Linked DNA regions of Homo sapiens: region 2 is linked to region 1. The links come from fine-mapping of genetic effects on gene expression. A gene starts in region 1. The other region holds a variant in brackets. All regions are shown on one strand. Distances are from middle to middle.

Region 1 (4,393 bases):
AATGGCAGCTTCGTCCTTCTTGCTAGTTGACTGGATATGGGAAGGCTGGGGAAGAAGAGCAACTCCCAGGTTTCTGGCTTAGGCAACCAGGTCAATGCTGGCACATTTGCCAAGATGGTGACTACTGGTTCCAGGAGGAGAAGGAGTTCAGGTTGGACATGCTGAGTTTATGGTGCCCAAGAAACAGCCACTTCTTTGAGCCACAGCATCAAAGAAGCACAGGCTCCACATCTGGAGCTGGAGTGCAGGGGACTCAGTGGCTTTGGGACACAAAGGCAAAAGCTGGCAGCACCAGGACAATAATTAAAGCACTGGAGTGAACATACTGGCTCTGTGGGGAGGGGTGTGTGAGCAGGGGACTGCTGATGGCAGGTCAGACCCATTTCTTCTTAGGCCTTTCTACTATAGTGTGTTCCATAATTTAATCTTTGGTAAGTAAAATTTGGGAGGGAGGGGGAAGATAAAAAAACACTAACTTTGTGCTCACTCTGCCATGTAGGTACAAACAGAAGCAAAAAGGGCCTATTAAAAAAAAAAACAGCAAGATACATTTAATCATTTAATAAGCACTTACTGTGTGCCGGGCCTTGTGCAAAGCACTAAACATGAATTATCTCCTGGAACCATCCAAACAATCCTGGCACAAAAGTCCTATGACTACCATTCCACAGATGGGACACTGAGGATGGGAGCAAATGTGTGGGGGAGCTCAGGGCTGTCATGTCACAGCCCACAGTCAGGCAGTCTCTGGGCCAGATGGAGAATATTGAAGAACAATTATAATACATAAGAGCTGCTACTTAGTGAGAGATGGCGCTGGACTAGAAATACAATCTCAGCAAATCCTTACAACCCTTTGAGAGTGATCTTGTTATTATCCCATTTTGTAAATGAGGAACCTGAGGTAGTAGGAAGGGAAGTCAACTGGACCAGTTCTGAATCTGGCCCTCGGGGGTGACCAATACTACGGCCAGAGCCCCACCCTCAGAGGGTCTCTGGGCCACTAGGAAAACGCTGAATAAATGGTACCATTTACTGAGCGTTATATGCCAGCTGCTGTGCTAAGCACTTTACACATGGTATTCTCACTGCATCCTGAAAACAACTCGACGAAGTGGTTGCTATTTAAATCCCCATTTTATAGATAGGGAAACCAAGGCACAGAGAGGTGAAGCCAGTTGCCCAAAGTCACACAGCTGGTAAATGTTCAAATTTGAACCTGGGGTCTCTCTGCCTTCCAAACCAACGCTCTTAACAAAATAATCTCGGTTAACAGCAGCTAGCCTGCATTGGGTGCTAACTAAGGACTCACCTCTTTACATGCACACGCTCAACTAATCCTCACCCTATGCAATCGATAACATCTTCACCTCATTTTTCGGAGAGCTAACAATAACCCAAATACGTAGTAAGTGCCTCCTATGTGCCAAATGTTTTATTATATTATCTCAACAGAGTCTCCGCCAAGATGCTCTCCTACTCCGTTTTACTGCAGGGGAAATTGAGGTTCGGCGCGGTTTTCCCAGATCGCGGCTCCCGAGTGGCACAGCCGGGACGCGAATCCACCGCTCCCCGCCTCCAAGCTCTTCACCACAGCGCCGGGGTGCACGCCTGGAAAGTTGAGCCATGCGGGCACGAGTCCGGCTGGGTCCGGAGGGCGCGAGTCCCGGCGCCGCCGCCCCCCACGGCCAGTACCCACACCCGGCCGTCCGCCCGCGCTGACCCTCGGGGTCCGGGCAGCCACCGATTCCCCGCCACCCTTGCGCGAGGCCGATCCTGCACCCGGAGCCACGTACCTGGACGCCCCGGCTGCCCGCCTCGCGGGCCCCACGATCGCGGCGTCCAGCTCCGCGCCGCTCGCTGGAGACGCCGCCAGCTCCGGTGGCCCGAGTGACTTCCAGGCTGCCCACTTCCAAGCCGCTTCGCGCGAGTCCTCCTGGGAACTGTAGTTTCGCCCTAGCCGGCCGCGAACTCAAAAAGAGAATGGCGCGCGGGGGCTGCCGGGAGCCGTAGGCGCACCGCCGCGCTGCCTCCTAGGAACGGTAGTCCGCTGGTCGCCTTCGTGCAGCTCCAGTCTGTAGAGCACTTCCGCAGCCCCGAGGGGCGTGAGGGAGGGAGGTGTGTCTCCTGCAGACTACAGCTCGAGAGCCGCGCTCTTCGCCCCGCCGGGGCGGTTTCTCCTTTCTCCTGGCCCCGTCTACCTCCTCCCTTCATTCGGCGGAACCTCTCCCTCACTCTCTGCCAGGCTCGAGTCACTTACCCCTAGGACGCTAGCCCGGGGGAAACGGGGGAAGCGGAGCAGTGCGCTAGACCCCCAGCGGAGGGGGCGGTGGAGGAGGGCGTAGATGCACGCCCGCGCACGCGCGGTCGTCGGCAGACCCCGGCCTAAATTGCCGCGGGACCCCGCGGAGAGGATTTTTTTTTTTTTTCTTTCGAGAGCGCGCGCGCGTTCTCGCGCCGGGCGCGCGCCCATGCGCACGCGCGTTCAGACCCCTGGCCTCGGGAAGTCCGCCGGCTGCGGGGTTGGGGGCCAACCGTTCTGTGGGCGGAGTCCTCTCGCAACATCCGCCAGGTAGCTTCTTAGTTGCTGCCCCTAGCTCTAGGAGCTCCTGAGTGCACACGCCGTACCCGTCCCTTGTCGGGAATCCTGTCGCAGGTAACAGGCGCAGCCAATGCTTTGAGATAGAGACGCCCTGCCTTCCCTGCCACGTGCAGGAGGCCCGAGGGTGAGGGGCCCCAGGTGTAGTCGCCTGTCCCCGGCGTAGGCGGCTCCAGAGCTCTGCCTTCGACGGGAGCCACAAGACCCAGGGGCTGCCTAGGGGCCTTGTTATCTTGCATTCTTTTGTTGATCGCACATTCCTGAGGGTAACTAGTGTTTGTAGAGTACCTACACCTTGGGAAATTTTGTCCAAATTTAATCCACCTGGTGACATAACCAAGCAGCGGAATACCCCGCAACACACACTCCTTTTTTAAGGTATATTGCCACTCCTCCATAAGAGTTACCGAGGGAATTGACTGGAATTGCAAGGTCCTCTGGTGGAGAAGCCGGAGTCAATACCCTTTCCGCCTCAGCCTGCCTTCTAGGAAGATGTTCACTAACACTTGAAGCTGGGAAGCATATGTTTCTTCCTGGGAGAGCACATTTTTCCACTCATTCAACAAAAATGGATTAACCACCTATTCCATGTCAGGTTGGGTGATTATGGAGACACAAGAGAAATCCAGACAGACTGGACTCCTACCTTCAGGGAGTTTTCAGTCCAGTAGGGATATCAGGCCACCACCAGACTACAACAATGTAGAGCAATACTAGCTAAGAGAAATATACCCTGCACTTTGAGCCACCGAGGCAGGAGGATCACTTAAGGCCAGGAGTTGGAGACTGGCCGGGTAACATAGCAAGACCCTATCTCTACTAAAACTAAAAAACTAGCTAGGCGTGGTGGCATGTGGCCATAGTCCCAGCTATTTAAGAGGCTGAGTATCGCTTAAGCCCAGGAGTTTGAGACTGCAGTGAACCATGATTGCACCACTGCCCTCCAGCTTGGGCGACAAAGCAGAACCCTGTCTCTTTAAAAAAAAAAAAAATTATATATGTGTGTGTTTTTATGTGTAATGCAAGCCACATATGCAATTTTAATTTTGACATAAACAGGTAAAATTCATTTTATTTATCATTATTATTTACTTTTTTTTTTCTTGCTATGTTGCCCAGGCTGGTATTGAACTCCTGGCCTCAAGACATGTTCCTACCTCAGCCTCGCAAAGTGCTGGGATTATAGGCGTGAGCCATCTCACCCAGCTATGAAATTAATTTTAATATTTTATTTAACCCAAATATATCCAAAATATTATTCCAAGTTAGGTTAATGGAAAAATGTTTTCATTGCTTCAGTTCTACTTTTTTTTTTTTTTTTTTTGGAGACGGAGTCCCACTCTGTCGCCAGGCTGGAGTGCAGTGGCGCCACCTCGGCTCCCTGCAACCTCTGACTCCCTGGTTCAAGTGACTCTCCTGCCTCAGCCTCCCAAGTAGCTGGGATTACAGGCAGGCGCCATCACACCCAGCTAATTTTTGTATTTTTAGTAGAGACTGGGTTTCACCATGTTAGCCAGGATGGTCTCGATCTCCTGACGTGATCTGCCAGCCTCGGCCTCCCAAAATGCTGGGATTACAGGCGTGAGCCACCATGCCTGGCCTCAGTTCTACAATTTAAGTTAATTAAAATCAAATAAAATTAAAATGTTATGAGGCACTAACAAAGATACTCATTTGCGGCATTAGCTGCAGTAGCAAAAGGTTGGAAACTACCGAATGTCCATTAATAGAAATTTGAATAAATAAATGATAGTTCAGCCACACGGTGGAATACCCTGCAGCTAGTAACTGTTG
Region 2 (4,393 bases), 270 kb before region 1:
TTTTTTTTTTGAGACAGGGTCTCAGTCACCCAGGCTGGAATGCAGTGGCGCGATCTCAGCTCACTGCAGGCTCGACCTCCCAGCCTCAAGTGATCATCCCACCTCAGCCTCCGAGTAGCTGGGACTACAGGCATGCACCACTATGCTTAGCTAATTTTTGTAGAGATGGGGTTTCACTATGTTCCCAGGCTGGTCTTGAGCTCCTGGGCTCAAGCAATCCGCCTGCCTTGGCCTCCCAAAGTGTTGGGATTACAGGATGAGCCACTGGGCCTGGCCCTTAACCTTTTTTTTTTTTTTTTTTGAGACAGAGTCTCACTCTGTTGCCCAGGCTGGAGTGCAGTGGTGCAATCTCAGCTCACTCCATCCTCAGTCTCTCGGGTTCAAGCGATTCTCCTGCTTCAACCTCCCCAGTAGCTGGGATTACAGATGTGTGCCACCACGCCCAGCTAAGTTTTTTGTATTTTTAGTAGAGACAGCGTTTCACCATGTTGGCCAGGCTGGTCTCAAACTCCTAACCTCAGATGATCCGCCTACCTCAGCCTCCCAAAGTGTTGGGATTACAGGTGTGAGCCACCGCACCCGGTCAACCTTTTTCTATGCAAAAACATACGCATGTGTATATAAAAGGGGGCATTTTGTGGGGGATGGGTGGGAGGATTATTGGTTTTTTGTTTATTTAAAGAGACAAGGTCTCGCTATGTTGCCCAGGCTGGCCTCGAACTCCTGGGCTCAGGCGATCCTCCCACCTCAGCTTCCTAAGTACCTGGGAACACGGCATGTGCCAGCACACCCAGCTAGGATTATATATATAAGTTAATAAATCCCTTTTGAGGGTCAATTTAGCAGTATCACAGGATGGTACTTTGACTACAGTCAAATGAGAAGACTGGCACATCTCCCCAGAGATGACAACATTGACCACAAATGACCATTTCAGTACTCCGAAAATTGACCAAACACATACAACAATTTGAGAAGCATGTATGCTTGAGAAACTGAACTTTAGGGAAGAACAGAGGAAATTTGTCGCATTTTGTCCTCCCCCCACCTCTTCCCAGCTCAGTGAGTGAAGAAGTTCTTCCAGAGCAGAACCTTTGGGACGGTATCAAGGGTACCAACATATGTGCATCAGGAACTTTGGAAGGAGAGGAGAGAAGGGGCAGAAAAAATATTTGAAGAAATAATGGTTGGAAACTTCTTAAATCTGATGAAAACCTTACACATCCAAGAAGCTCAACAAACACCAAGTAGGAAAAATACAAAGAGATTCACACCTAGAAAAGGAGTTGAAAGTTAAATGCTGGCCGGGCGCGGTGGCTCACGCCTGTAATTCCAGCACTTTGGGAGGCCAAGGCGGGCAGATAACCTGAGCTCAGAAGTTCGAGACCAGCCTGACCAACATGGAGAAACTACATCTCTACTAAAATACAAAAAAATTAGCCAGGTGTGGTGGCGCATCCATATAATCCCAGTTACTTGGGAGGCTGAAGCAGGAGAATCGCTTGAACCCGGGAGGCGGAGGTCGCGGTGAGCCGAGATCACGCCATTATGCCGTTGCACTCCAACCTGGGCAAAAAGAGTGAAATTGTCTCAAAAAAAAAAAAAAAAAGAAAAGAAAAAAAGAAAAATGCTAAGATAAACATCTTGAAAGCATCAAGAAAAAGATGATGCATCGCATATAGAGGAGCATCAATACAATTAGCAGGCCTATAATCCCAGCACTTTGGGAGGCCAAGACGGGAAGATCACTCAAGCCCAGGAGTTGGAAACCAGCCTGGGAAACACAGTGAGACCCCACTTCTATAAAAAAGAAAAAAAAACACAATTAATTGCTGACTTCTCATTTAAAAGAATGAAATAAAATGTAACTTTTAAAGTGCTGAAAGAAAACAACTGTTAACCAGGAATTCTATACCCAGCAAAACCATCCTTGAAAAATGAAGGCAACAGAAAGATGTTCCTATATAAACAGAGATGGAGAGAATTTGTTGCTAGCACACCTGCCTGATACAAAATAATTTTAAAACTCCTC[G/A]GGTTAATCCCAGCACTTTGAGAAGCCAAGGCAGGTGGATCGCCTGTCAGGAGAGCTCGCAGCCTGGCCAATATGGTGAAACCCCATCTCTACTAAAAATACAAAAATTAACTGAGTGGTGGCGGGCACCTGTAATCTCAGCTACTCAGGAGGCTGAGGCAGGAGAACTGCTTAAACCCAGGAGGCAGAGGTTGCAGTGAGCTGAGATTGCGCCACTGCACTCTAGCCTGGGTGACAGAGTGAGACTCCATCTAAAAAAAAAGAAAAAAAAAGTCCTCAGGCTGAAAGAAATGACTCTAGACAATGACCTGAGTCAGTAGACAGAAATGAATAGCCCAAGATGGCAAACTGTGGTTTAAAATAAGATTCTATAAAAGTATATGCTTTCTTATTTCTTCTCTTAACTTCCTTAAAGACATAAGACTGTATAAGGCAATAATGACAATACTATACTGCTGGGTTAAAACACATATGGATGTTTATGATAAACAGAGCACAAAAAAGGGAGAAGGAAATAGGACAATATTGGAGAAAAGTTTTATATTTTATTGGAATTTAGTATTAACCTGAATTGCAGTGATAGACGCACATTATAATAACTAAAAAGATAGTTACACAAGAGTAGAATCCAAATGTTATACTAAATTATATATATTTTTTATTTTTAACTTTTGAGACAGAGTCTTACTCTGTCACTTAGGCTGGAGGGCAGTGGTGCAACCTTGGCCCACTGCAACCTCCGCCTCCCTGGCTCAAGCGATTCTCCTGCCTCAGCCTCCTGAGTAGCTGGGATTACGGGTGCATGCCACCACGCCCAGCTAATTTTTGTATTTTTAGTAGAGACAGGGTTTTGCCATGCTGGCCAGGCTGGTCTCGAACTCCTGACTTCAGGTGATCTGCCCGCCTGGGCCTCCCAAAGTGCTGGGATTTTACAGGTGTAAGCCACCACATCCGGCCTGAAACTGTATTTATTTACTACAGTATAAGGCAGTAAGGAAGAACAGAGGAGCAAGAAAGATAGTAGACATACAGAAACAATAGCAAAATGGCTAATGCAAATCCAACCATTAGCAGTAATAATTACATTTAACGTGAATGGTCTGAACACTCCCATCAAAAGGCAGGGATTGTCCGACTGGATTGAAACAGCAACTATGTAATGCTTTCCACAATTTAGCAACATCTATCAATGGAGCAAAGAGTAGGCATTGGTGAGGAGATGTCCAGGGAACTACTGAAGCATGTAACACCAAGAATGGTCAGGAATGCTTTCCCCAGGAGACAAGAGCATCAGAACTGAGAACTGAAGGATGACTGGCTTCAGCTTAACATTTGGCCTGGCTGGGTGTGGTAGCTCATGCCTGTAATCCCGGCACTTTGGGAGGCCAAGACGGGCAGATCATGAGGTCAGGAGATCGAGACCATCCTGGCTAACACAGTGAAACCCTGTCTCTACTAAAAATACAAAAAAATTAGCTGGGCATGGTGGTGGGCGCCTGTAGTCCCAGCTACTCGGGAGGCTGAAGCAGGAGAATGGCATGAATCTGGGAGGCGGAGGTTGCAGTGAGCCGAGATCGCACCATTGCACTCCAGCCTGGGCGACAGAGTGAGACTCCATCTCAAAAACAAAAACAAGACATTTGGCCTCCCAGAAATCCATGCAATAGAAAAGCCTGCACAAGGCCGGGCATGGTGGCTCATGCTGTAATCCCAGCACTCTGGGAGGCTTAGGTGGGAGAACTGCTGGAGCCCAGGAGTTGCTGTAGAGACTCTATCTAGGGACGGGGTCTTGCTATGTTGCCCAGGCTGGTCTTGAACTCCGGGGCTCAAATGATCCTCCCACCCCAGCCTCCCAAAGTGCTAGGATTACAGTTGTGAGGCACCATGCCCAGCCCTAGAGACCCTGCCTCCACAAAAAAATAAAAATAGCCAGGAATAATAGCACATGCCCATAGTCCCATAGTCTTAGCTACAAAACACACACACACACACACACACACACACACACACACACACACACACACACACCAAAAGCCTGCACAAGCACACACAGGCAGGTATGAGGACGGTCTCTGTAGTACTGTTTATAATCAGGAAAAGTTGGAAATGGCCAGGCTGGAGTGCAGTGGTGTGATCTCGGCTCGCTGCAACCTCTGCGCCTCCGGGGTTCAAGCGATTCTTGTGCCTCAGCCTCCTGAGTAGCTGGGATTATAGGCATTCACCACCATGCCTGGATAATTTTTGTATTTTTAGTAGAGACGGGGTTTCACCATGTTGGCTAGGCTGGTCTTGAACTTCTGGCCTCAAGTGATCCACCTGCCTCGACCTCCCAAGGTGCTGGGATCACAGGCATGAGCCACT

Evidence for each region. PIP is the estimated chance that this variant, and not a neighbour inherited with it, causes the effect. A credible set is the group of variants that fine-mapping cannot tell apart.
Region 2: its variant is the best candidate, but not a certain one, in a credible set for the expression of SIPA1L3 in skeletal muscle (GTEx, PIP 0.57).

Annotation. Positions count from the first base shown.
Region 1 is chr19:37,904,762-37,909,154 of GRCh38, reverse strand. SIPA1L3 (signal induced proliferation associated 1 like 3) reads right to left here and starts at 1,947. Exons shown (of 22, transcript NM_015073.3): 1 at 1,797-1,947. WDR87 (WD repeat domain 87) reads left to right here and starts at 2,561. Exons shown (of 6, transcript NM_001291088.2): 1 at 2,561-2,656. RefSeq lists an enhancer at 1,236-1,295 and a silencer at 1,596-1,835.
Region 2 is chr19:38,177,754-38,182,146 of GRCh38, reverse strand. All of the region lies in intron 15 of SIPA1L3 (signal induced proliferation associated 1 like 3), which reads right to left. Among named protein-coding and RNA genes, the nearest start is that of SNORD152, 17 kb to the right of the region's middle. The variant G/A (reference allele first, on the strand shown) is at 2,033.